4 separate regions of the Homo sapiens genome follow, and regions 2, 3 and 4 are each reported to be linked to region 1. The links are microRNA targets in miRTarBase. Many come from high-throughput screens and were not tested one by one. Region 1 holds a microRNA gene; each other region holds the end of a gene's coding sequence.

The links. Region 1 holds the annotated microRNA hsa-miR-146a-5p (UGAGAACUGAAUUCCAUGGGUU, at 2,300-2,321, shown strand). A microRNA usually pairs through its seed, bases 2 to 8, with sites in the 3' UTR of a target mRNA and lowers its output. Matches are read on the target gene's strand: a 7mer-m8 pairs with bases 2 to 8, a 7mer-A1 pairs with bases 2 to 7 and ends in A, and an 8mer does both.
Region 2: miRTarBase lists DECR1 as a target of hsa-miR-146a-5p. Seed matches in the 3' UTR shown: 7mer-A1 at 2,193-2,199.
Region 3: miRTarBase lists COPS8 as a target of hsa-miR-146a-5p. Seed matches in the 3' UTR shown: 8mer at 5,765-5,772 and 8mer at 3,681-3,688.
Region 4: the mRNA of SPP1 is a reported target of hsa-miR-146a-5p. The part of its 3' UTR that is shown has no 7-base or 8-base seed match.

The regions. Positions count from the first base shown.
Region 1 is chr5:160,483,073-160,490,199 of GRCh38, forward strand. It overlaps MIR146A (microRNA 146a), which reads left to right and starts at 2,280; the gene lies at 2,280-2,378. MIR3142HG (MIR3142 host gene) reads left to right here. Exons shown (of 2, transcript NR_132748.1): 2 at 2,227-4,354.
Region 2 is chr8:90,051,007-90,058,133 of GRCh38, forward strand. It overlaps DECR1 (2,4-dienoyl-CoA reductase 1), which reads left to right. Exons shown (of 10, transcript NM_001359.2): 9 at 671-733; 10 at 832-2,627. The coding sequence ends at 891. Among named protein-coding and RNA genes, the nearest start is that of CALB1, 28 kb to the right of the region's middle.
Region 3 is chr2:237,096,584-237,103,710 of GRCh38, reverse strand. COPS8 (COP9 signalosome subunit 8) reads right to left here. Exons shown (of 8, transcript NM_006710.5): 7 at 6,842-6,889; 8 at 3,237-6,048. The coding sequence ends at 5,969. Among named protein-coding and RNA genes, the nearest start is that of COPS8, 14 kb to the right of the region's middle.
Region 4 is chr4:87,982,074-87,989,200 of GRCh38, forward strand. It overlaps SPP1 (secreted phosphoprotein 1), which reads left to right. Exons shown (of 7, transcript NM_001040058.2): 7 at 419-1,338. The coding sequence ends at 823. Among named protein-coding and RNA genes, the nearest start is that of SPP1, 9.9 kb to the left of the region's middle.

The DNA of each region.
Region 1 (7,127 bases):
TAAAAGGCTAACCAGAGACAAAAAAATGCAACAGTTTGTCTTGTATCTACCTATGATCTGGAAGCCCCCACCCCTGCTTCTAGTTGTCCCAGCTCTCCAGACTGAACCAATGTACATCTTACATATACTGATTGATGTCTCATGTTTCCCTATAATGTATAAAACCAAGCTGTGCCCCGACCACCTTGGGCACAATGTTGTCAGGACCTTCTGAGGCTGTGTGACAGGCATGTTCTTAACCTTGGCAAAATAAACTTCCTAAATGGATTCAGGTCTGTCTCAGATACTTTTGGGTTCACACATCCATGAGAAATGCAAACATATGTCCATACAAAACTTGTACATGGGTATTCATTCATAGAAGCATCAAATAGGCAAAAGGTAGCAACAACCCAAATGCCCATCAGCTGATGAATGGATAAATGAAATGTGGTAGATCCTAACGATGGAATATTATTCATCCATAGGAAGGATGTACTGATACGCATTAAAACATGGATATATCCTGAAAGCTAAGTGAAAGAAGCCAGTCACAAAAGGCCGCTGATTATATGATTTCATTTATATAAGATGTCCAGCATATATATAGACAGAACGTAGATCAGTGATTCCCCAGGGGTGAGGGAGGGGAATGGAGATTGACTGTTAATGGTTATGGGATCTATTTTGGGGATGATGAAAATGTTCTGGAATTGATTATGATGGTTGTACAACTCTGCAAAATACTAAAAACCAATGCATTTTTTACTTTAAATAGGTAAATTTTCTGGTGTGTGAGCTATATAGCTATAGCTCAATAAGGCTATTATATACTTATTTTATTTTATTATTATTTTTTAGAGACAGAGTCTCGCTTTGTCACCCAGCCTGGAGTGCAGTTGTGCAATCTTAGCTCACTGCAACCTCTGCCTCCTGGGTTCAAGTGATTCTTCTGCCTCAGCCTCCCAAGTAGCTGGGACTACAGGTGTGCGCCACCATGCCTGGCGAATTTTTGTATTTTTGTTAGAGACGGGGTTTCACCATGTTAGCCAAGTGAAACTTGAACTCCTGACCTCAGGTGATCTGCCTGCCTCAGCCTCCCAAAGTTCCGAGATTACAGGTGTGAGTCACCACATCTCGCCTATATACATATTTAAAAAACACTAGCATGGTCTCTATGCTTATGGAAAACAGTCTTGTTGGAGAGATAATTTTAATCAAATAATTATACAAAATTATCTAACAATTACAAATTACGGTGAAGGAAAGAATCCCATATTATGAAAGAGACTAGCTGGAGGCTGATGGTGAGGGAGTGGTAGGTAAACATTCAAGTGCTCTTACAGAGATCCCCAAGTAACAGTGGCTTAAATAAGGTAAATGTTCCATTCTTGCTGATCTATCAGTGCAGGTGTAAGCAGTCTAGGGTGTATAAGGAAGCCTCACACTTTTGGGGCTCTTCTGGCATGCTGCTCTGCTGTTCCCTGGGGGGCTGCACTCATTTGCATGGTCCACAGTGGCTCTCTACCATGTCTACAGTCCAAGCCTGAGAAGAGGGAGGGAAACAGTAAAAAACTCTCCACTCCTGCTCATATCCAGCACTTTGTCACACCAGGTGAGGAAACAAAGTCAGATGTCCATGTGTTCAGATACCACTTAAGGGTTCTATTAGTATAGAAGGAGGAGAGAATATATATTGGGCAAACAATCAGCAATCTCTGCCATAGATGGCCTCTCTGAGGAAGTGACATTGAAAGCAAGAACATCAGGATAAGTTGATGTTAAAGAGAGGAACGAGTTTTCCAGGCCAGAGGGATGGCATATGGAAGGGTCATGAGGCAGGAAAGGCCAGCTACCATGTTTAATGATGCTTAATGATGTGTGTGTCTACCATACACATCCCCTACAGATTAGTTTTTGTTTTGACAGGGTCTCTCTCTGTGGCCCAGACTGGAGTGCAGTGGTGCAATCATAGCTCACTGCAACCTCCAATTCCCAGGCTCAAGCGATCCTCCCACCACAGGCCATCATGCATGGCTCATTTTTTATTTTTAGTAGAGACAAATTCTCCATGTTGCCCAGGCTAGTCCTGAACTCCTGGGCTCAAGAGATCCACCCACATCAGCCTTCCAGACTGCTGGCCTGGTCTCCTCCAGATGTTTATAACTCATGAGTGCCAGGACTAGACCTGGTACTAGGAAGCAGCTGCATTGGATTTACCAGGCTTTTCACTCTTGTATTTTACAGGGCTGGGACAGGCCTGGACTGCAAGGAGGGGTCTTTGCACCATCTCTGAAAAGCCGATGTGTATCCTCAGCTTTGAGAACTGAATTCCATGGGTTGTGTCAGTGTCAGACCTCTGAAATTCAGTTCTTCAGCTGGGATATCTCTGTCATCGTGGGCTTGAGGACCTGGAGAGAGTAGATCCTGAAGAACTTTTTCAGTCTGCTGAAGAGCTTGGAAGACTGGAGACAGAAGGCAGAGTCTCAGGCTCTGAAGGTATAAGGAGTGTGAGTTCCTGTGAGAAACACTCATTTGATTGTGAAAAGACTTGAATTCTATGCTAAGCAGGGTTCCAAGTAGCTAAATGAATGATCTCAGCAAGTCTCTCTTGCTGCTGCTGCTACTCGTTTACATTTATTGATTACTTACGATGATTCAGGTACTGTTGTAAGTGCTTTACATGCTGTTATACGAGACTCTTGGGAGAAATCACTTTAATGAAGCTTGAGACACATGGCATTGCCATGCAATGATTTTTCCCCCCTCTTCACGGGATCAGAGGGAACTAATAGAATGTGACAATGATTCTTTAGCAGGGACTGCTGAGGCTTCTGGTTCCTTTTTAAGATCTGCAGTGAAAGAAGATGAGAAACATGGATATGCCCTTCTTTTGGTCCCCCTCTTCCTTTATTTGATCTCTACTTCCTTCTATAAATATATTAGGGCTACATTGTCCCTTTGTATTTCAAACAAGGCAAAAAGAGGTTGTAATTACACTTTACTGCAATCCTCAGTTTCTCCAGGGAACAGGAATGCAAAGGCTTTGAAGGCCTCTCTATTTGCTGACATGGTCAGCTGGGTGCCATGGGCCAAGTCCTTCTGTTGCCCTCCTCTGTCACCAAGTAAGCTAGGTCCTTTCTGAGGCTCAGGTTTGCTGTGATGATGATCACTTTTAGGCAGAAGGTTAGAGGCCTCATGAGTGCTATATGGACTTTATTAGGCTTTAGATTTGATGGGGAATAAGGGATGTGATTTGTCTTTTGGGAACTCATCTTTGATTCATCATTGTCTCTTGGTATCTTGGAATTTCCATGTCATTACAGTCTACAGAATGAAAGAGTAACCTGTCCCAGAGGAGAGGCAGGTGAAAGACTCCACAGCATGCTCATTCTCATTCTGTCTTCTCAGTGACACCGAGGTTTACTGAGTGCCCACTATGTGCCAAGCACTGTGCTCAGGGCTTTCTTTGTATGCATGATCTCAGTGAATCTCACCAAGCCTCATCTGGAAAACGGGGACAAATTAACAACAGGATGGCAAATTGAAAAACACGTAACCATGTTCTACAGATGGAAAGGGGTGCTTGGTTATTATGAAGGCCCCCTCGCAAGCGTGTGGGACATGGGTGTGTTCTCTGGGTTGTACTGATCAGATCAAGGACCTCCCCCACCCTTCTCACACTCTGCCCACTTCCGCCCTTTGCTTATCAGACCCTTAGCCAGTGACTCATTCCAGAACCAGAACCTTGGTGAAATCTCAACCGACACCAGAGATCGGTGTCTTCAGTCCTAGACTGATGGAGAAAATCCAGAATATATACTAGAAGCTCCAAATGCTCTGGGTTTCAGCTCCTCTGTGCTGTGGACACTGACTTTGGCTCAGAACTCCGATTTAGTACAAAAGGCTCATTTTTATTTCAGGGGCACTCTTCCTAAAGCAAACCTAATAAATGAAATATGGAATTCACAGATACACACACACATTAAAAAATTAACCTAGTGTATCTGTGAGGAGTAGGCAGAAATTCACTGTATAAAAGAATGCTTCATTTCATAGAGAATTTGTGTTAAGATTCCATTAGATAGTACATTTCTCAAAGATTTTTGAGGTTGTATTTGCTTTACCAAAACTTGGTTTATGTAAGTGGAAAAAGCATGTTGCAAAATAACTTGGTGTCTATGATTCAGTTTATGTAAAATAATAAATGTATGTAGGAATACGTGTGTTGAAAGATGTACATCAATTTGCTAACAATGGTTATCTCTGACGTGGTGGGATTTGAGATGTGTTTTTCTTTTTGGTTGTATTTTTCTCTATTGTTTGACTTAACACAGAACATGTTTGGTTACAACAATAAAGTTATTGAAGACAATATAACACCCAATTGTGATGAGTCCAGACAGTACTCATGCTGTGCATTTATTAGACAGTATGCCATAGAGGTGGGTCATGGAGGAGTGGAGAGAGAGCCCTGATTTGTTGTCCCATGAAGAAGATAGGCACAGGGTAATATGTAGTGTGATTCTTTTTTTTTTTGCACGAGGAGAAGTGTGTGTGTATCCGTGTAAGTGTATGGATATCCAGTGGGTAGTGGGTGTTAAGATTGCAAGTGATTTTTTTCCCCTCTCCCTTAATCATGCTTTTCTGCCTAAATAAAAAAAGAACTCTCTCCAAAAATCCATCCATGTGTGCCAGTGGTTTTTAAATGTGTTTCTTGGAGCAGCAGCATCAGTATCACCTGTGACTTTTTTTTTTTTTTTTTTGAGTCACTCTGTCACCCAGGCTGGAGTGCAGTGGCATGATCTTGGCTCACTGCAACCTCCGCCTCCTGGGTTCAAGCAATTCTCTTGCCTCAGCCTCCCAAGTAGCTGGGATTACAGGCGCCTGCTACCATGCCTGGGTAATTTTTATATTTTTAGTAGAGACGGGATTTCACCATGTTGGCCAAGCTGGTCTTAAACTCCTGACTGCAGGTGATTCGCCCACCTTGGCCTCCCAAAGTGTTGGGATTACAGGCATGAGCCACCACGCTTGGCCTGGGAATGACTTTTGGATTAGCTAACCAACCTGTGAACTTTTTAGAAATGTAAATTTTCAGGCCCCACTCAAGACCTCCTGAATAGAAAACTCTAGGGGTAGGGCCCAGCAATTTCTGTTTTACCAACCCTTTGGCTGACTTTTATGCACACTAAAGTTTTAGTACTGATAGGGTCAATCAAGGGACATCTGCATTCCCCTGGAACTGAAATATAGCTGACATTGACATGAAAGATGCTGGCCCACTCCTACAAGTATGCATGCAAGTATTCCGCAAAACTTATTTCTGAGAGATGAACAGCAGGACCCCAAAACTTCAAGATGGTTACAAGTGATATTTCCACCGGTGAATAGTAGATTTCTAGGTTTTTAATGTGCAAACTTTAGGTGCATAAAACCGCTTGAAGAAGTTGTCAATTAAGGCAGGTCATGCCCCTGACCCACAGACTAGGCATTTCCAAAGTATCTGTCATTTTAACCATCACTCACTGAATGTCATCAAGGAGGTCCTAGGACGACACTTAGAGCAACTATTCCAGGCTTTTTCAAATGCTGTTTTCCCCCTCCGTACTATTATGTTTCTTCTTCCCAATTCATCCTTTCTCTTCCTGTTGTGATTGATGGGGTCTCAGAAGCAGATTAGCCATCCTTTCGGCTCTGTGCTTGGGAGAGAATAGCTCACATGCTGCTAGAGAGGTGCCTTGGGAGTAATAATAATGATAATGGAAGTATTGATTTGCCATCCTCTGATAACAAAGGAAGGTCATGATTTATCAGCTCACATTAATGGGATGAGGTGGAAAGTTGGACACACTACCTCACAGTCTGCCTTTCCCTTGTGCTAGGTTGCTGGGATTCACTGATTTAGGGACACAGTGGTTTCCTAAGTCCTGCCAGCAGTCAAACCTTTGTTAGTTAAAATGGAAATTTCTTTTTTTCATATTTTCTCACATCTAGACTCTTGCCCTCTTTTCTAATAATATTTCAGAGAGGCAGCTCCCAGTTTGGGTGTCCAGGTGGTCAGAGAGTCTGGAAAAATGCTCTGGGGGCAGGAAACCAGGGTACAAGCCATCTTGTCTAGTTCCTCTTTGCTCTTCTTAGCACTAAGGTGATTTCACAACAGTTTTTTAAGGATGTTCTGCTCCTATCTCCTGCGGAAGCCCTTCCAAGTAGAAGAGTTAATTTTGATTATTCCTGGGAAAGTGCAGAAAATATAATTACAACTTTATTGGATATTTACAAGATACACAAGGTATCTTGTAATAATGAAAGATTTCTCTATTTTCTATATCTGAAAACTGAGGCTCAGGGAGGTTACATAATTTGCTTAAATTTCACACACAACATGTTAAGTGTCACAGCTAGGATGTTAATCAGGACTGCACAGTAAGAACCTATGTTCCTTTCACTAAAGTTTGTACTGTGTTAGGATTTACAATTTGTAAAGCACTTTAACACACATTAGTATATTTGCTGAACACCACATTCTTCCGTGAAATAGCTCTTCTTTTTTTTTTTCTCTTTGAGACAGAGTCTTGCTCTGTCACCCAGGCTGCAGTGCAGTGGTGTGGTCTCAGCTCACTGCAACCTCCGCCTCCTGGGTTCAAGCAATTCTCCCTGCCTCAGCCTCCCGAGTAGCTGAGATTACAGGTGCCCACCACCACGCCTGGCTAATTTTTGTATTTTTTACTAGACAGGGTTTCGCTATGTTGGCCAGGCTGGTCTCGAACTCCTGACCTCAAGTGATCTGGCTGCCTTAGCCTCCCAAAGTCCTGGGATTACAGGCGTGAGCCACTGTGCCTGGCCATAGCTCTTTTCATAATCCTAATTTTAGAGATAGGAAAGTGGAATTTTCAAAAGATTTTGCAACGTATCTGTGCCCCGTGCCATATAGCTGGTAACTGGTGACGTGGAGCCTCAAAACCAAAATCCCTATAGCAAAAAGATCATTTTTACTTAAAAAATGTATACAAATATACATGAACTTAGAAGGAAGGAAAGAAAAAAAATCTTTTGCCTCTGTTTCTGCAGTGTGACTGAAAACAGAAGAGCATGCATTGAGGCCCACTCTGACTTATTCCTCCACCTGTGCCTTTGGTCAGCAGGAG
Region 2 (7,127 bases), not on the chromosome of region 1:
CACATGGGGGCCCGTCGTGGGGTGGGAGGAGCGGGGAGGGATAGTATTAGCAGATATACCTAATGTAAATGACGAGTTAATGCGTGCAGCACACCAACATGGCACATGTATACATATGTAACAAACCTGCACATTGTGCACATTCACCCTAGAACTTCAAGTATAATTAAAAAAAAAAAAAGAAAAGAGGTTTAATTGATTCACTCTTCTGCATGTCTGAGGAGGGCTCAGGAAACTTACAATTATGGCTGAAGGGGAAGAGTCATAACTTAACATGGTGGCAGGCAATAGAGATAAAGAGAGGGAGAGAGAGAAAAAAGGGAGACGAGAGAGAGAGAGATTGAGGATTACAATTCAAGATAAGATTTTTTTGGGGACACAGCCAAACCATATCAAGTGATAAATTAATAGATGCAGGTTACCTTGGTAGATATACCTTTAAGATGATCTTCAATATTGGGTAGATATTTGAAATTGTGGAGATGTTAGAAATAGAATTATAAACTGAGTAAATCAATTTAGGTTTAATCATGAGTTTTATCTTTAAAATTTGGGCTTGATTTAAAGTGCCAAAGAGATATTCCATCCAATTAGTATGGGAAAATGGCTAGTGGTTCAGAAACTTTTTAAAAGGAGTTAGTTTCAGAGTTTAAAAATTTGTTTTTTCCAGGTCATTAAATTTGACGGTGGAGAGGAAGTACTTATTTCAGGGGAATTCAACGACCTGAGAAAGGTAATGCTTTTGTGTGTATAATGTAATATCAGCAGCTAGGATACTAAGCTTTAAAAACATGTAAAAAGGACATTAAATTGACATCTTTTTTGTGTTAGGTCACCAAGGAGCAGTGGGACACCATAGAAGAACTCATCAGGAAGACAAAAGGTTCCTAAGACCACTTTGGCCTTCATCTTGGTTACAGAAAAGGGAATAGAAATGAAACAAATTATCTCTCATCTTTTGACTATTTCAAGTCTAATAAATTCTTAATTAACAAACATTCATTGAATATGTATTATGTGCCAGGCCAGTGATAGCCATTGTATATTCAAAGATAAATAAAATGAAATATAGTCCTTCAAAACATTAAAAAAAAAAAAAGGAGGCATGGGGAGAGTAGGTAAAGGCTCCTCTTTACCTATTGATAGAGGTAAAAAGTACTTAGAAGTGCAGAGAGAACAGATCTTTGTGACTTGGAAAATCAGGAGAAACTCAATGGTGGCGGTAGCATTTGAGTTACATAATATACTATACCTATATTAATAGGGCCTAAAAGAAAGAAATTAGAGGATACACACTAAATATAATAGACTTTGCCTTTCCAGTATACTTTCTTTTCACTGGACTTGTGAATTATCTTCTTTGGGTAACTCAGTATTAACTCAAACCTTTAATTTTTACTAGGACCTATTTGTAGCCAGGCATTTTATTTAGTACTGAATAAGCTATAGCCGTTGCCCTTTTTAAATTCATTATCTAGCAAGATAGTCAAACTTATAAATAATTATTTATGATACATTGTGATAAGTATTATTCCAGCAGTATTTAAGTGTAGAGGAGGAAGTAATTCATTCTGTCTCCAGAGTTTGGAGAATGTGATGCCTAAGAGATAGCATGCCATCCCAGCTGTAAAAGAAGAATAGATTTCTCTGGGTAAAAGAGGTAAAGAAAGCCTATAAAATATTTTTGTATATCATTTGATTAAATTTCATCTTTGGTTTGACTAATTTGTCATCCTGAAAATCAAATAATAATGAATCCAAAGTCTCAAGTCTACAGAGCTATACTTTTGAGCCTATATTTTTAAAATGTCCATTTTGCTTTCCCAGGAGTCAGTTACAACATGTTCACTAGACTGACTATCCCCATTGCCCAAGTTGACACAAGAGGAAACCAGCTTCCATCTTACCTCATCTGAATAAATCTGCCACAAGCCCATGGAAACCCCAATTAACATTGACAGTTAATTGTGTACATAAATTACATTTATTACATTTAATTGTGTATATATAGGGGATGTTATAGGTTTGGAATAAGTGGCCCAACATTTCCAATTATACTGACTTTCACTGGGCTTTTTTTTAGGCTGTTGCACTTTTTCTCCACATGCTTGCAATACAATACTCTCAAAATAAAACGCAGACAGGTACCTAGTCTCCATTTTACCTTTAGTACTAATCCTGTGTATTAGTCTGTTCTCATGCTGCTAATAAAGACATAACCCAAACTGGGTAATTTATAAAAGAAAGAGGTTTCATTGACTCATAGTTCAGCATGGCTAGGGAGGCCTCACAATCATGGCAGAAGGTGAGTGAGGAGCAAAGTCATGTCTTACGTGGTGGCACCCAAGAGAGCTTGTGCAGGGGAACTCCCATTTATAAAACCATCAGATCTCGTGAGACTTATTCACTATCACACTATTGTGTTGATATTGTGTTCACACACCAATAATGATGGTTTATCACTCACTCCATTTCCAAACCCACCTTCCCACCCACCTCTCACCAAACACACAAAGACACACTCTTTCCCTCCACTGATTCCACCAGTATAGCCATATTTCTCTTTCTGGTTAAATTTATACTAAATGTTTACATTTATATAACTTAATAAATATTATTTTTTTCCAGTGTTGTCTCAACCTTTTTTAAAAAAAAAATTCAGATTACATGATAAATCAGGTCCTTTTTTAGATAAATATTATTTTTAGTGTTCTATTGTTTTGATGTATCATTATTTAATTTATTGGGAATAGGGTTATTTATATTTATTGTTTTTATCTTTTTAAATTTTTATAGAGACAATGTCTTGCTATCTTTATCAGTCTGGTCTTGAACTTCAGATCTCAAGTGATCCTCCTGCGTTGGCCTCCCAAAGTGCTGGGGTTACAGGCATGAGCCACTGAGCCTGGCTGTTGAAAATTTTTTGTTTTTTAATGTTTTTCAAGAATGCTAATGCCTCCCTTGCCAATGCATTTTAAAATTATTATTAATATTACTTTTGATTGGCAAATCATAATTGAATTCATTTATGGGGTGCCCTGTACATTTAAGGGGTACAGTGTGATGTTTTGATATGTGTATACAATGTGGAATGATTAAATCAAGCTAATTAACATATCTATCACCTCTCTTACCTATTGGCCTTTATGGAGAGACATTTGAAATTTACTTTTATTAGTTATTTTTAAATATACAGTACATTATTATTGACTATAGTCACCCTGCAGTAGATCTTAAAACCTGTTCTTTCTATCTGAAATTTTGTATGCTTTGATCAGAAACCCCCTTCTTCCCACTCCCTCAACCTCTAGTAAACCATCGGTCTACTTTCTTTTCTTTTCTTTTTTTTTTTTTTTTGATATGGTGTCTCACTCTTGTTGCCCAAACTGGAGTGCAGTGGCATGATCTTGGCTCACCGCAGCCTCCACCTCCCGGGTTCAAGCGATTCTCCTGCCTCAGCCTCCTGAGTAGCTGGGATTATAGGTGCACGTCACCATGCCCGGCTAATTTTTCGTAGTTTTAGTAGAAACAAGGTTTCACCATGTTAGCCAGGCTGGTCTCGAACTCCTGACCTCAGGTGATCCGCCTGCCTAGGCCTCCCAAAGTGCTGGGATTACAGGCGTGAGCCACCGTGCCCGGCCAATCATCATTCTACTTTCTACTTCCATGAGTTCAACTTTATTTGATGCCATACATAAGTGAGATCACAGGTTACTTTTATTTTTCAGTATTATAAATAAAACTATGAACGTTTTTATGTATAACACATTTTTAGAATTTGGAATTTTTTCCTCATTTCTAGAAGTGGTATTATTAATCAAAGTTATGAAGCTTTTAAAGTTTTTTTGATATACATATCCAATTGTTATTCCAAAGATTTGTGTGAGTTTAAACCCCCCTGAGTAATGTGTGACACTGCCCGTTTCAACAAATAGCTGCCAACAATTAAAACTATTCACCAATTTTACACGTAACGAATGATAGTACCGTTAAAAACTTATTTTATTATTAGTGAGATTGAATACTTTTCTACACTTTTGAATTTCCTGTTTGTCTTTTTTACCTGTTGGTATCTTAATGGGGTATTGTAAAATTTTTGGTTTGTATGAGTTTGTATGCAATTTTTTCCTCTGTTAAAGACAAAAATAGTTCTTTTAATAGTTTCTTAGTCATCTATTACATCATTATTATGTGTTATTACAAATGGTTGATGAGAAAGCAAAGCTTGCAGCATGGCAGAGAGGATCAGAGAAGAGAGATCATGGAGATATTGACTAACAGATATTTTTTCCTGAGTCTGAAAGAGAAACAAACATTGTTTATGGGTAATCACTGTATTCTATGACAGACCACATGTGGGCTGTAACCACATCAATGTTCACCTTAAGAATTATTACTTTGTCACTCAATACCTTCTGTAAGAGTCCTGCTTCTATTGTACTAGTGGAAGAGTTAATACTCAGTAAATTAAAGATTATTGGTAACAATATCACTCATCTTACCATTAACATGTGAAACCACCTCCAGGAAATGTTTCAGGTATAGAGTGACAGCCATTGTTTCCTTATTGTTCTTGTGGAAACTAAAACAATAAGAATTTAATGACTTTGAATAATAGAATTTTAGAGCTAGAAAAGCCTTAGAAAATGCAAATTCTCAATGTTTTTATTTTACAGTTGAGGAAACTGCAGACCTAGAAAGTTATGTGACTTGCCCTAGGTCACACAGTAAGTCAAGCTCATGTCTCTCACCCAGTTAGATATTTCTTGGGATCATAACTCAAATCAAGAGCCAATAACAGGGTTTTTAGGAGGTAACAGTTAGACATTACAAAAGCCTAGAAGAGGAGAAAGCCCATCAATTTTTTTAGCTTGTTAGTTGAAGTATGACTTCTAAAAATGCACAAATCATGAATTATTACAATACAAATGCACTCAGGTAACCATTCTCCAGGTCAAGAAACAGAACATTACCAGGAACCCAGAAGCCTCCCTTCTGCCCACCATCGCGATTCCTTTCCTCCTTCTCACAACTAACCACTGTCTTGACTTCTAACCCCATCGTTAAGCTGTTTTGAGATTTATATAAATAGAATCACACAATATGTATTCTTCTGTTTTTTGGCTTTCTTTCTGTGTAATAATTGCTTATGCATTCTCATTGTTATATTCCATAGAATATAAGGTATATATGAATATACCACCATTTATTTGTTAGCTCTGCTCTTAGTGGACATTTGGATTGTTTCTAGTTTGAGGCTATGCCAAACATAAAGCTGCCGTGAACCTTCTATTCTTTTGGCGAAAATATATACACCTTTCTCTGTTAGATTGGTAATACCTAGAAGTGAAATTGCTGGGTTTTAGGGTATGCTTGTGTTCAAATTTAGTAGATACTGTCAAATGGCTTCCAAGACTATTCACAATTTAACATCCCACCAAGCTGTTTGGGAACTTACACTGTGCTGCATCCTCACCAGTAGTGAGCATTGAAATTCTCTTTACTTTGAGTCATTCTGTGAGTGTGTGGTGGCATCTCATTTGTTTTAATTTGCTTTTTTTTTTTTTTTTTTTTTTTGAGAGAGGGTCTCACTCCTGTTGCTTAGGCTGGAGTGCAGTGACACGATCTCCATTCACTACAGCTTTGACTTCCTGGGCTTGGGTGATTCTCCCACCTGAGCCTCCCTAGTAGCTGGGACTACAGGTGCATGCTACCATGCCTAGCTAACTTTTTGTAGAGACAGCCTTTCGCCATGTTGCCAGGCTGGTCTCAAACTCCTGGGCTCAAGTGATCCTCCTGCCTCAGCCTCTCAAAATGCTGGGATTACAGGCATGAGCCACTGCATCTGGCCATTTGCATTTCTCCTGATTACTAATAAAGTTGATTAATTTGCATATGTTATTGGACATCATTTGGGTATCCTCTAGTGAAATATTTGTTCAACTTTCTTTTTTTTTTTTTTTTTTTTTTTTTTTTTTTGAGACGGAGTCTCGCTCTGTCGCCCAGGCTGGAGTGCAGTGGCGGGATCTCGGCTCACTGCAAGCTCCGCCTCCCGGGTTCACGCCATTCTCCTGCCTCAGCCTCCCAAGTAGCTGGGACGACAGGCGCCCGCCACTACGCCCGGCTAATTTTTTTGTATTTTTAGTAGAGACGGGGTTTCACCGTTTTAGCCGGGATGGTCTCGATCTCCTGACCTCGTGATCCGCCCGCCTCGGCCTCCCAAAGTGCTGGGATTACAGGCGTGAGCCACCGCGCCCGGCCTCAACTTTCTTATACATTTTTCTATTGGGTTATATTTTTAAATGTTGGTTTCTAGGAGTAATCTTAATATATTTTGGATATGTGCCTTTGTCAAGTATATGTGTTGCAAATATCTTCTCCCACTCTGAAATTTGACTTTTCACTCTCTTAATAGTTTTTTTTTAAAGTTTGTAGTCATTTTCTGAACAGAAATTCTTAATTTTAATGGAGCCCAATTTTTCAATTTGTTTCTTCATAATTGGATGTGAAGAAGTATTTTCATGCATGAGGTATTGAAGTTATTCTCCTGTGTTGTTTACATATGTTTCACATTTATGTTGATAATAAACTTGGAATGAATTTTGTTTGTGGTATGAGATAGGCATTGTGCCTGTAATTTTATATTTGCCTATCTAGATTCATTTTTTTCATTCTTCACCCTCTTCTCTGCTCAAGGAAGCAGACCTGTCATTTATAGGTAAGTGTGACTGATGTAGCTGAGGTGTAGGAATTTCTTTGTCTGATAGTGCTCAGGAATTAAAGTCTACCATGATAGTCCTGATGCTAGATTCATGTCAGTTATTCCTGACAGCCCTCTAGGAAGTCTCTTCAGAAATTTCCCTATCATAATTTGTTGTTGTTGTTGTTGTTTTTCTTTCTTTGCTCATGCTGTTACTGTAAGAATGCCAAACCTGGTAGAGTTTTGGCGCATACTTGGTAGTGAACAGTTATTTTTCTATGAATTAAATATAGGAAAATTCTGTATGTCCCTGTTATTCCTTTGGATATCTTTCATGAAGAAATATTTGACTGTGGGCCAGGCGCAGTGGCTTACGCCTGTAATCCCAGCACTTTGGGAGGGGAAGGCAGGTAGATCATGAGGTCAG
Region 3 (7,127 bases), not on the chromosome of region 1:
TTTATGTTTTCTTTTATGTCTCTCAGGTCATTGAGAAGTATACTACATAATTTCTTTCTTTGAGAGATGGTCTTACTCTGTTATCCAGGCTGGAGTGCAGCGGCATAATCATGGCCCACTGCAGCTTTGACCTCCCAAGCTCAAGCGATCCGCCTGCCTCAGCCTCTCAAGTAGCAAGGACCACAGACATGCACCACCATGCCCAGCTGACTTTTTAAAATTATACTTTTGTAGAGACAGGGGTCTATGTTGCCCAGGATGGTCTTGAATTCCTGGGCTCGAGCGATCTTCCTGCCTCAGCCTCACAAAGTGCTGGGATTACAGGTGTGAGCCACTATGCCCAGACAACTACATAATTCCTAAGCAGTTAGAGATTTCCTAGTAATCTCTATGGCTTTATTGATTTCTAGCTTAATCCCACTGTTTTCAGAGAATGCACTCATTTTGATTTCTACTCTTTGTAATGTATTAGGGCTTTATGGTCCTTTATGTGTTCAATTTTGGTAAATGGTTTATACAGCATAAAATGAAATTATATTTTGTCATTGTTGGTTAGTGTTTTATGTATCCCAATTAGATCAAGTCTGTCACCTTTGCTATGTTCTTTGTGATATTGTCTGTTCATGCCATCAGCTAATGAGAGGTGTATTATGTCTTCCAGTATGATTATAGATGACTCTTTTCTCCTTTTAGTTCGGTAAACTTCCACTTGATTATATTTTGAATATAAAATTAGAATTGCTACATATTCCTGTTGCCTTTTGGACTGATCTCTGTAGAATAACGGACATCCAAAAATGTCTATATTTGAATCCGTAGAATCTCAGGTTATATGGGAAAAGGAAATTAAGATAGCAGACAGAACTAGATTGCTAATCAGCTCACCTCAAAATAGACTGAGTATCCTGAGTTTCCAGGTGGGCCCAATATAATTACAAGGGTCCTTCAAAGTGGAAAAAAGGAGGCAGAAGAGAGAACCAGAGATCGAGCAGTGTGAAAATAACTCTACCCAATGTTGCTGGCTTTGAAGGTGGAGAAAGAGGGGCATGAGCCAAGAAATGCGGGCGGCCTCTAGAAGCTGGAAAGGGCAAGGTAACAGCTTGTCCCCTAGAGCCTACAGAAAAATATGCAGCCCTATTGACATAAGCCCAGTGAGACCCATTTCAGATTTGTGGACTGCAGAACTGTAAGATAATACATCTGTGTTGTTTTAAGCCATTAAGTTTGCAGTAATTTGTTACAGAAGGAAACTATATGCAATCTTTTTCATTAAAAATTACTTTCTATCTCTAATAATGCTTCTTGCCTTGAGGTCTACTTTGCCTAATACAATCACCCTTCGATATTCACAGGGGATATACTTGGCTTCAAGACTGCCAAGTATACAAAATCTGTAGATCAGAGTCCTTTATATAACATAGTATTTGCAAATAACCTATACACATTCTCTCGTATACTTTAGATTTAATACCTAATACAATGCAATGTATAATTGTTATGCTGTATTTTTTTAGAAAAATTTCAAATATTTTTGAGCCACAGTTGATTGAATCACAGATGTAGAACCCACAGATATGGAGGGCCAACTCTTACTATCAAAGGTGCACCAACTTTCTTTTGGTTAGTATTTGCAATGGTATATCTTTTTCCAACTTTTAAATGTAAGAACACAGAAATATTAAAAGAGGATCTTTTGTATATAGCAGTTAGGATTTTATTTTTCTTTCAACATGTTAAAAATGCCATTTCACTGTCTGGCTTTACCACTACTTCTTTGAAGATAATGTCCCCCCGGGTCCTCCCTCTGTGCTTTTAATATATTCTCTTTGTCTCTGGTTTTCAGTAGTTTTACTACTGTTGTCTGGGTGTGGTTTTCTTTGCATTTATCCTCTGTGGGGGTTTTCTGAGCTTTTTGAATCTGTGGATTGATTTCTTTCATCACTTTCAGAAAATTCTGGGCTGGTACTTCTATTTTTCCACTCTATATTCTCGCTCTTCCTTGGATTCCAATTAGATAAATGGTAGATCGCTATGCTGTGTACCACATGTCTCCAACACAATTGCCAGTTAAGTTCCACTGTTTCATTTCTGTACTTCAGCTTAATATTTTATATTGACCTGTCTTCCAGGAGCAGTTTTACTAATATTCTACTTCTGGTTTATATTTATAAGCAAACACCTTCCCCCACCCAACAACCTTGTTTAATGGAGCGCTGACATAGCAAAACTCCAGGAAAACGGAACTGTTTCTCAAAGGTTTTTGACTTGCTTTTTGGTCTCCTACCCTAGGCAGCTTAAAAGTTCACCAAATGTTTTGAAGGGTAAACAGTGTGGTTTAGCCCTCTCAAGTCTCCATTGTTATCACCCCAGCCCTTTCAAAGTGCCCAAATTCCACAGGTTGTTAGGTTATTCAGCAGCAGGCCCCTCACCAGGCAAAGCTTGAATCTTGCTGTGCCCTGTGGAATCAGCAAACACCTGCCACCGACCCTGCAAAGAGCTGCTGCAGATGACCTCATTGCAGTACTCTCAAATCTTAGCTCCACATTCCTCATTGATTTAGGGGCTGATGCCTCTCAAGGGATAAATGTGGGTATTCACCTATTAGTTATTGACACAATTCTGAGTTGGCCTCAAGGTACTTCAACCCAGGAACAGACATTTTCATACTTACTACCACCCCCTGACTTTTTGTCATTTATTTTTCAAGCAAACTCACTAATCCTGTTAAATTTCCCACATTCTGGAACTGGCTGTTTCTTAGTGGGATGTTTAACTTGTTCCATTAATTCTCACATTTTATGTAAAGTAGCAGATCTAAACCTTTAAATATATATATATGTACATGTATATATGTATATATTTATATACTATATATATGCATATACGTATTATATATATATATATATATATATACACATATATATATATACTTATATATATAAAATTAAATTCAGGTGCTTTCAGTCTGATTCATGTGTTACACACTTCCCTTTGATTTGACTAGGTCCCCGATCCCCGCCCCAAGGCAGAATAGCATAGGTATGTAAAGATATGTAGACAGATCACTTCTATTGATCTCCGGGAACAAGAGACAGGGAACCAGGAAAAGTAAAACAAGGAATGAGGAAAAAACAATTGAAGGCTGCATTAGAGAGCTTATGACCATGGGACACCACAGCTCAATTTTTTGGGGGTTCTTTTTGAGGATCTAGGTATAGAACACATTGGAAATAGTCTGCCCTGAGACAAGGAAGAGAGTGTTTATTCACCATGTCATGTTCACAACTGCTGATGGGCTGCCCAATCAGGTTTGTGTGGGCATCCTGATAGTAGTGCCAGGGTAAGTCCCAGAGCAAATTTTAGAGATATCCAATGGATCTGAAACAGGGTGCTGTCAGGCTACACTTGTACACAGATGGCTGGCTCAGAAATAGCCAGAGCACAAAGACAGGCTGATGGATGTACTGGACATATTTCATGCTCAATCTCAATTTCTTACCCTGTGGTCTCAACAGCATTGATATATATTTCCATGATCCCTTCTTTGTTTCATTAAGGGCTGCAAGTACCGTTTTTCTAACTTTTATCTTTATTCGGTGGAATTTTCCAGCATGAGCTTTTTGACTACCCTACAGGTTCGATTTTGTTGCTTTAGAGATTGGCAGCATATCAATTTGTCCTGAGAACTGATAATAAAGGGAAGTGAAATCAAGCACTTACCCTGCCTTTCTTGTACAGTGATGAGGTTATTAAGAGTTAAAAACAGACACATATACAAATATTTCATGCTCAAACTGTCTCATTTTTACATGGCCTGTAGAAATCCCTTCAAGTTGGCTTGTATAACCCTTTGACAGAATCCCAAGTCTTTAAGAGCCTCCTTGAATCCTGGACATCTTGTACCAGATATGAACTTGTACACTTACTGCCCTGGAACTATTAGCTGTTTTGCAAATAAGTTCTGATTCCTTTTAATTGCAAATGAAAATGAAAGAACACCATCTGGGTACTAGTGGTGCTCATTGTTACTGAACTGTAATTACTCTAGACCTTTTCATGTAGACAGGAGTGGGAAATATTTACTGTTTACAAAGAAAAATAAAGCATATAATGAGGTTTCCATGTCAAATTTAAGATTACTGGGGTCTAATGTTACATGATTATTAATTTAATCTATACTTTTAATAATAAAAAAGATATCAAGATTTTGTGAAATTAATCATGAAAAACCACATTCATTAGTCTAAGATTTTTTTCTGTCCTTAGTGTATATCCCACTGACAATGTAAAATTGAAATATTGTGTTTGATCACTTGAGATTATTTTTTCTCTATGTAGTAGTTCACTGTCCTCTCCTTCCTCTTTAGGGAACTATTATATTCATTTTGTATATATCCCCCAATTGCTTAGTTTTGAAATATAAGGAAATATGTACATATATATAATTGTAATCATTCTCCTTTTGTTACCCTCAAAATAACCATATAAACTACATGTGCTTTCTATGTTCTCACTCTGGAGATCATTCCAGTTTAGTATAGAGATCTTCACTCCTTTTACACCTGCGTAGTCTACACTGCTGTTTATTCAAACAATCCCCTATTAATGAATATTTGGATTGACTCTAATCTGCTTTTAAAAAATAACCATGGATACAATTTGTACTTAATACCTGGAAGTTAAAAAAACTGGCACTGTCATTCTCTTGATCACTCTCCTGATCCTCTGACTTCTTGAATTCCCATTTCCTCAACTGTAAAACAAGGAATTTTAATATGACTTACCTATCCGGGTTAAATAAAATTGCAATTCAAAAAGTATTCCCATATATGTTAAGAAAAACTGAAATAGCCACTAAAATGCATTCAAAATAAATAAATTATATAATTATCACTACACAGATTCACCATACAACTCATTTCTACTTAAGAGATTCATATAGACACAATGACAAAATAGATTGTGTCCACAGAAAGATCGAGAGTGAAATTTCCAGAAACTATCTTAGATGAAATAATTGAAGAATTCAGTTAAATATTTATTGAACAAATGCAGAGTAAATGAACTAAGGGCTGTTATAACCTTAAGTTACAACAAACAACTTCAAATATTCAGAGGGCTGTCACACAGAGAATGAAAGACTTGCTCAGTATTTCTCCAAAGGGCAGAACTTGAGCCAAGCGATAAATATAAGCAACCAATGGGCTGCAGGATAGTTGTACAAAGTGTATCATGTATCTTCATAGCTTCTTTGCCCATATAATGCATTCCACACTTAAGTTTCTCCTTCTAAAAGGCGACAGCACAAGTTAATATGTCTCATAAATGTCTTAAATAAGTTGCATTTTCATGGCAAGCCCTCCACTGCCAGCAATGGATATACTCACACTATTGGAAAAAATCTAAAGTTAACAAACTGGTTTAGTATGGAAATGGTCTATTTGTTCCTCAGCTATGTTTCTGTATCTTACATTAGTGGCTCTCAGGAGGTGGGGGGTGAAAAGAGAGCATGTTCTCCAAAGAGGGTGAATCATAATCCCCAGTGATTCAGATACTGTGCCTGGGGACAATCTTTCTTCAAGTCCAAATGAATCATTATAATTATCAACCAATGGTACATATAAGAGTACGGCATGTGCTGGGACAGAGAAAAGACAGTTGACAAACACTATTCTACATGAAACAGGAAATCTTATTTTATGAGTCACTAGAAAACTAACTGTAATACTGACAGGCTCCATCCAGATTATTAAATACTACAAAATGAGAACTGTTTCAACAACTATTCAGCATAACGTTTATGGACAAAATGTATATAGTATATCTTATATTCTATATGTATTTTATCACATAGTAAGGAATGCTGAGGTGCTTAAGCCATCCAATAAATTGAAAATACAAACTTTACATTTCTACGTTTGTCAGTATACAGGATTCTGAAGATGAATCTTGAACTCAGAGTGATAAATCAGTTTTCAAGGAAAGCCACATAATCCGTCAGTCTGGCTAACTGCTGTTCATTGGGTATTGGGGGAACTGGAGCAGGCTCTGTATGTTAAAGAAACAAACACACTTCATGTTACATACCACAGTAACAAAGCTTTGGCCCCAACACCTACCTCCCCTAATGCCTTCAATTTTTAACAGTAAGTTAACTTTCTTAGATTTGTCCTGGTTTTAGACAAAATCTTACATCATAGAGGCTTGGACATTTTTGAAAAGCAAGCCAAGAAGTTGCAACTTTTATGAGTATGGTTTTACCTAACTGCTAGTAAAGGCATGTCTCATGTTGTTGTTACTGAAGTATTCTATGTAAAGGTTAAAGACACTTTTATCATGCAACATGTCTTTTAAAAGATCACAGCTCTTCTTGAAAACATCCTTACCCATGCAACATTAAATTCAAGAAATAGAGTGCTTCCCATGCCCCAGACATCACTGAAGAATATTAAATTGTCAACAAACCAAAAAAAAAAAAAAAAAAAAGAAAACCCACAAAGAACCTCAAGGAATTTACATTCCAACATTTAAATTACTACACGTCAGCCTGGGGACGCCTTCTGAATAACAGTACTGGTGAACAGCTCTGGCAGGCCTCCCTGACATGAGAATAAGAAGGCTCTGCAGCTGGCCCAGAGGAGGGCACCGCCTCAAGGCAAGCTCTGGGGGAGCCCAGTTTCACTCTTGTAACCAGATGTATTACTACGCATTTATGAAATTTAACCTCTGTTTACAAGGTAAGAAATAGATACACACACTCACACACACATATACATATATACTACAAAAAAGAAATTAGGAACAATGAGACATTAAAAAATGTGCATATGAAAATACATACCTGATAAGGGAATAAACTTGTTAAAGGAAACATCCAGGGCCCCTGCAACTAAATTCAAAAAAAAAATGTACAGCTCAATTTACAGAAGTCATTGTAAAGATCTTTCATAGAACATGCTATTTTCAGCACAACATGCATTTAACGGCCATTTATTTCTCAAACAGGGATAACAACTGTGCTCCATTATAATTCTTTATTATATTACTCTTCCCCCACTATCTCACTTGACTGGGATCATGTCTTCTCACTCTTTGTAACTCAAAGGGCTGAGCACATTGAGAATCCT
Region 4 (7,127 bases), not on the chromosome of region 1:
AATTATTTAAAAAAAATAATGGTCATGTTTTGAAGTTAAATACCTAAGAGGAATTGTAGTTGCAAATTACACTGAATCCTTAGTCACAGAATCTGGATTTGACATAGCCTTGCCGTTTACTATTCTCTTTACTTTTTAACTAACAATTCACTTCCTCTTTATGTAGGTTTCAATATAATGAAACCTACCTCATAGGTTTCATTACATATGTAAGTGATGTAGTTATTAAACTAAATGAGATGACATATGTGAAAGGCCTTGGTAAAGTACTATACAAAGTAACATGCTAGTATTATTTCAGCCAGATTTAGACAATTTTTAGTATAAGATGACCTAAAAGCTAGAGAGTGGAAAAGGATTACCATATTCCCATCCCTAGCCGTTCATATAATTATTCTTCATTTGTGCCGTGATTCAGTACCCTGATGCTACAGACGAGGACATCACCTCACACATGGAAAGCGAGGAGTTGAATGGTGCATACAAGGCCATCCCCGTTGCCCAGGACCTGAACGCGCCTTCTGATTGGGACAGCCGTGGGAAGGACAGTTATGAAACGAGTCAGCTGGATGACCAGAGTGCTGAAACCCACAGCCACAAGCAGTCCAGATTATATAAGCGGAAAGCCAATGATGAGAGCAATGAGCATTCCGATGTGATTGATAGTCAGGAACTTTCCAAAGTCAGCCGTGAATTCCACAGCCATGAATTTCACAGCCATGAAGATATGCTGGTTGTAGACCCCAAAAGTAAGGAAGAAGATAAACACCTGAAATTTCGTATTTCTCATGAATTAGATAGTGCATCTTCTGAGGTCAATTAAAAGGAGAAAAAATACAATTTCTCACTTTGCATTTAGTCAAAAGAAAAAATGCTTTATAGCAAAATGAAAGAGAACATGAAATGCTTCTTTCTCAGTTTATTGGTTGAATGTGTATCTATTTGAGTCTGGAAATAACTAATGTGTTTGATAATTAGTTTAGTTTGTGGCTTCATGGAAACTCCCTGTAAACTAAAAGCTTCAGGGTTATGTCTATGTTCATTCTATAGAAGAAATGCAAACTATCACTGTATTTTAATATTTGTTATTCTCTCATGAATAGAAATTTATGTAGAAGCAAACAAAATACTTTTACCCACTTAAAAAGAGAATATAACATTTTATGTCACTATAATCTTTTGTTTTTTAAGTTAGTGTATATTTTGTTGTGATTATCTTTTTGTGGTGTGAATAAATCTTTTATCTTGAATGTAATAAGAATTTGGTGGTGTCAATTGCTTATTTGTTTTCCCACGGTTGTCCAGCAATTAATAAAACATAACCTTTTTTACTGCCTATATAATGTTTTTAAAGGTTTATTTTGGTTTCAATTGATACATAATAAGTGTACATATTTATGGGGTACGGTGTGATGTTTTGTTACATATATACATTGTATAATTATCAAAGGGTAATTATCATATCCATCACCTGAAACACTTGTCATTTATTTGTGCTGAGAACATTCAATCCTCTTTTCTAGCTATTTTGAAGTATACAATACATTATTATTGACTATAGCCAAGCTACTTTGCAATAGAATACTAGAATTTATTCCTCCTAGCTAACTGTAACTTTGTACCCATTGACTAACCTCCCCTCATCCACCTTCCCACTCTCCCAGCCGCTGGTAATCACTATTCTACTCTCTACTTCTATGAGGTCAACTTTTCTAGATTCCACATATGAGTGAGATCATGCAGTACTCTTCCTTCTGTGCTTGGCTTATTTAACTTAACATCCTCTAGGTTCGCCTATGTTGTCAAAAATACCAAGAGAAAACATGCACAAACTATACATCTAAGAAGGAATTAAAATCCAGAATACATAAGGAACTCAAACAACTTAATATCAAAAAAAAAAGAAAAAAAAAGACAACTCAAATAATCCAATTTAAAATGGGCACAAATCTGAATAGACATTTCTCAAAAGAAGACATGCAAATGGCCAACAGGTATACAGAAAAATGCTCAACATCACTAATCACCAGGAAAATGCAAATCACAACCACAATGAGATATCATCCCACCCAAGCTAAAATGGCTTTTATCAAAGAGACAAAAAATAACAGACACAGGCCAGGATTCGGGGAAAGAAGGACACTCGTACACTGGTGAGAACTGTAAATTAGTACAGCCACTATGAAAAACTGTATGGAGACTTCTCAAAAAAACAAAAATAGAACTACCATATTATTTAGCAATCCCACTGCTGAGCATATAACCAAAAGAAAGCAAATCAATATGTGGAAGAGATATCTGAACTTCAATGTTTATGGCAGCACTATTCACAATAGCCAAGATGTGCAATAAATGTAAATGTCCCTCATGATGAATAGATAAAGAAAATGTGGTATATACACACAATGGAGTACTATTTGACCATAAAAAGAAATTAAATCCTGTCATTTGCAGCAACATGGATGGAACTGGAGGTCATTATATTAAGTGAAATAAGACAGGCACAAAAAGACAAATATCGCATGTTCTCACCCATATGTGGTAGCTAGAAAAGTGGATCACATAGAGATAGACTGTAAATTGGTGGTTCTACAAGAGGCTGGGGAGGGTGAGGGTAAGGGGCAGATGAAGAAAAGTTGATTAATGGGTACAAATATACAGTTAGGTAGAAGAAATAGGATCTAGCATTTGACAGTACAGTAGGGTAACTATCAATAATTTACTGTATATACATTTGTTAAAAACCCTAAAAGACAAGAATTCAAGTGTTCCCAACATAAAGCAAAGATAAATGTTTGAGGAAATGGATATCTCAGTTATGCTCATTGGATCATTACACACTATATGCACACACAAAAACATCATATGTGCCCCCAAAATACAGACAACTATTGCATATCAATTTTTTAAATAATCAATAAATTTAAAAGGAAACTATAAAGATATTAGATAAATACATGAGTGAGTAACTTCACAGTCTGGGTGTGGAGAAACCTCTTCTAATGATGAGAAGACAATGCCATGCCATAGTCCTTGTAGATATCATTAGTCAGGTGCAGCAGCCCCTTAGGCTCCCAGCATACTTGCTGCAGTGGGCACTTCCTCACACTCACCTGCAGGTGATGGCTGGATTGATGGTGTTGTTCCCACATGCTTGGCAAGGGGCTTGGCACTGTGCTCAAATCCAAGGGCATGACCAAGTTACTCCTGGAATCACTTATTTGAATAGTGGTACTATTTAACAACTATTCCCTGCATCACTTCTCTATTAGTCAGGGTTCATTCAGAAGACAGAAAAGAGACCAGTCATTTGAACAGGGAAAATTTAATTTAAAGAATTATTAACTAGAAAGAGGAGAATAACCAGAGAGAATAAGAGAAATAAGAGAACATTAACAATACCATGGGGCTGAAAGTGCCCATATAAGGAACAACTTGCAAAAGGAGAGGCCCTCTCCTGAGATTCAGACTTCACTGGAAAGGGTACAGTCACAGCCCAAGGGATGGCAGAGAAGTCTGCTGTGTTATCCTGAGTCAGAGCTGGTCCACAGTGGTCCAACTGGTGGGCTCAAGTTGGAAAACAAGAGACTTCCCACAGGGGTTCCAGCAGACTGAGGCCAGCAAAGAAGGAAAACCATGGGGCAGGCCAGCTGAGCAGGAGGCTAGCTGGAGGGTGAGTGCCACAAGGTGCTCTGTGTGCACAGCAGTGTCCCTCCAGTGCCCTCTACTGACAAAGCTTGCCACTGTGCCAGTTGGCAAAGGAAGCACGTTCACAGGGTCCATCTCCAGCAGTATCACAGAGCAGGGCAGAGACAATGGATTTGGAGCAGGGAGGCACAAAACTGACAGGGGAAAAGGCTGATTCCTCCTAGACAACAAGAGCACAAAAATGAGCCTGGGACATTTTTTCATGATAGGATGAAAGCAAGCACGAAAGGACAAAATGGGGTTATATCCAAGGGACCAAAGAGCAGACTTGCAAGGGGCTTCCATTGGCCAAAACTGGCGTAATTTGAGCAATAACAGAATAACGACAGTAACGAATTATAACAAATTGAATTTTTAAAATTCCACTAGTATATAGTGATACTACAAAAGAGCATTAAAGAAGGAAAATTCTTCTTTACAGATGAATGCCAGCTAGTAATAAAACTAGAAGGAATGCTAACATTAAAAAATTATTTCATAACCCACAAGGAAATAATTGAGGAAGTGATCACTAATGAATGTTAAAATTATTGTGCAGAAGATGATTGAGAACATCTCACCTGGTCTCAGAGTATTCACCTGTTCTCAGAATATTACTCCACAATTATTTAATAATTCCAAAAGAAAGAAAGTGCTTTCAACCAGAGAGATTTGCAGTCACCGTCTTTAGCCAGTAATTAATGAGACTTGTAGATACGTACCACCCAGTGTGAGGCAATAAGAAATATGCAACATCATCTAGAAATTTTTGTAAAAAATGTTTACAAAATCAAATGACTAGAAAACAAGCAAATCCAGAATTTGAGCTACTCTATAATAGAACTGGTCTGAGCTTTTTTTTTTTTTTATCTTTTGAGACGGATTTTCGCTCTTTCACCCAGGCTGGCATGAAGTGGCGAGATCTCGGCTCACTGCAACCTCCCCCCGGCCCCGGGTTCAAGTGATTCTCCTGCCTCAGCCTCCCCAGTAGCTGAGATTACAGGCATGAGCCACCGCACCCGGCAGTCTGAACTTTTTAAAAAGCAGAGTTGTTAGATAAAATACAGGATACTGAGTTAAATTTGATTTTCAGATAAATAACAAATTAGCTTTTAGTATGAGCACGGGACATTTTATGCTAAAAGATGATTCATTGTTTATTTGACATTCAGGTTAACTGAGCATCCTTTTCTAAATTTTCTAAATCTGCCAATCCTACAAAACAGACAATTTGATGAGAGAAAAAGGGCAAGAGAGGAGATAGTATTCTAGATTAAAAATATACCAGGTATAAAATAGATTAAAAAATATACCAGGTATAAAAAGTAAAACATGGGCCGGGCGTGGTGGCTCATGCCTGTAATCCCAGCACTTTGGGAGGCTGAGAAGGACAGATCACCTGAGGTTGGGAGTACCCGACCAGCCTGACCAACATGGAGAAACCCCTTCTCTACTAAAAATACAGAATTAGCCAGGTGTGGTGGCACATGCCTGTAATCCCAGCTACTCGGGAGGTTGAGGCAGGAGAATCGCTTGAACCCAGGAGGTGGAGGTTGCGGTGAGCCGAGATTGCACCATTGCACTCCAGCCTGGGCAACAAGAGTGAAACTCCGTCTCAAAAAAAAAAGGTAAAACATGAACCTTGATTGGCTCCTGGATTGAAAAAGACACACAGCCATAAAAAACCTTTTGGGGACAATTGTGGCAATCTGAATATACACAGTATATTAAATGATATTGTGAAATTACTGATAATTTTCTTAGATGTGATCATTGCATTGTACATGAAAGTGAATGTTCTTACTCTTGAGAGAAGTATAATGAAATATTTAGGGATGAAGTGCCATGGTTTTTGTAATTTACTTTCCAGCGGTTCAGAAAATAATGACTGGGAGAGGAAATGTGAAGATGTAGGTTAGAGGTTACAAAGTAGCAGACATGGGGAATAAGCAAGTCTAGAGATCCAGTGTACAACATGAGGACTACTATTAATAAAATTGTACAGTATTTGGGATTTCTGCTAAATGAGTAGATTTTAGCTGCTCTTGCCACACACATAAAAAAGGCTATCTATAGGAGATGATGGGTATGTTAATTTGCTTCACTACAGAAGCCATTTTTCTGTCTATATGTATCCCATAACATTATGTTGTATACCTTAAATATACACAATAAGATTTCTTTTTAGCTTTTTGGAAAGTGGCGACTGAGTCTGTGGGTGCTGCCCCAGGAGTGGGAGCTATCATACACCCTCCTCTTCCAATCCATGTTGCAACCAATAAAGGCTGTTTCTACAGTGTTAAAAAAAAATTCAACGGTAGGCTGTCATCAGGGGAAAAAAATTAGTAAGAAGTCAGAAAAAAGGTATACAGAAAGAGAAGAAACTATGGGGAAAAGCATATTATTCTTTTAACTTTTCTCAAGGTTTAAAAATGTTCCAAAAATTGGAAGTAGGAGGATAGAGCAGGGAGAACAGAAAAATGTACAATGAATAATGTCCATCAGATAGTGTCTCAGACATAGGTATAAAAGTCTCAGAACAATTCCCTCATTATTCACCTCACAAGATCATAAAAAAGGCATTCATAAATTTTTATAAATAAAAAAAGTGTCAAGACCAATTTCCCATCACCTATGCGTTTTTCAATAACCCTGTAGATACTCCCTTTGATGCAGGTCTTCTTTAGTCAAACAATCTTTTCATCCCTTGCCCATGGCAATGATATGGCCTAACTGTGAATCAAAGTATTTGTCCTGGTTCCTGGCATAGCCTTTTCTCCTCTGCCACCCCCAGTTTTTCAAGTTTCTAGTAACAATTGCTCCAAATCCTGTTTGATTGCAATTATAGCATAATGGCCAAGTTTCCATGGGATTCAGCTTTGTCAGTGGAGCAAGGCAGAGGCAAAGAACTATAATGAGCAATTCTGATATTGACCTGTACTGAGCATGCAAAAAGGACCTTAAAAACCTATTTGTAGACATTAAAGAAAAGATTGTTTTCTACTTCACAATTTCATAAGGTAGTTTTTTATACTTCTTCAATTTAGTAGCTCACTTACTGAAGCATAATTATATTCTCCGCTCAAAACATCCAGAAAGCATGCATTCTCTAAAACATTGCAAGTTGAACTTCAACGTTATTTCAATGCAGACTCTTTGACTTATCTATTTTATTCTAAATACCACAGTGACTCGTGTTTGACTAATCCAATGTGATTATTTTAATCCAGAGTGTAGATGGATATTGCATATTAGATCCAAATTTCTGATAACATTCCCCCAAAGATGCAAACACGTAAGTCCCAAAGACCTATGTAGCTGAATCTGCTCTTCTAGTCACATTGAAAGAGCATAGATCAGCAACCAGAAAGAGAAAAGAGCGGTGGCCTCTGAGGCTCCACCAAAAAAATGTGGGGCAGACCTAAGGGGAAATCTAAAAG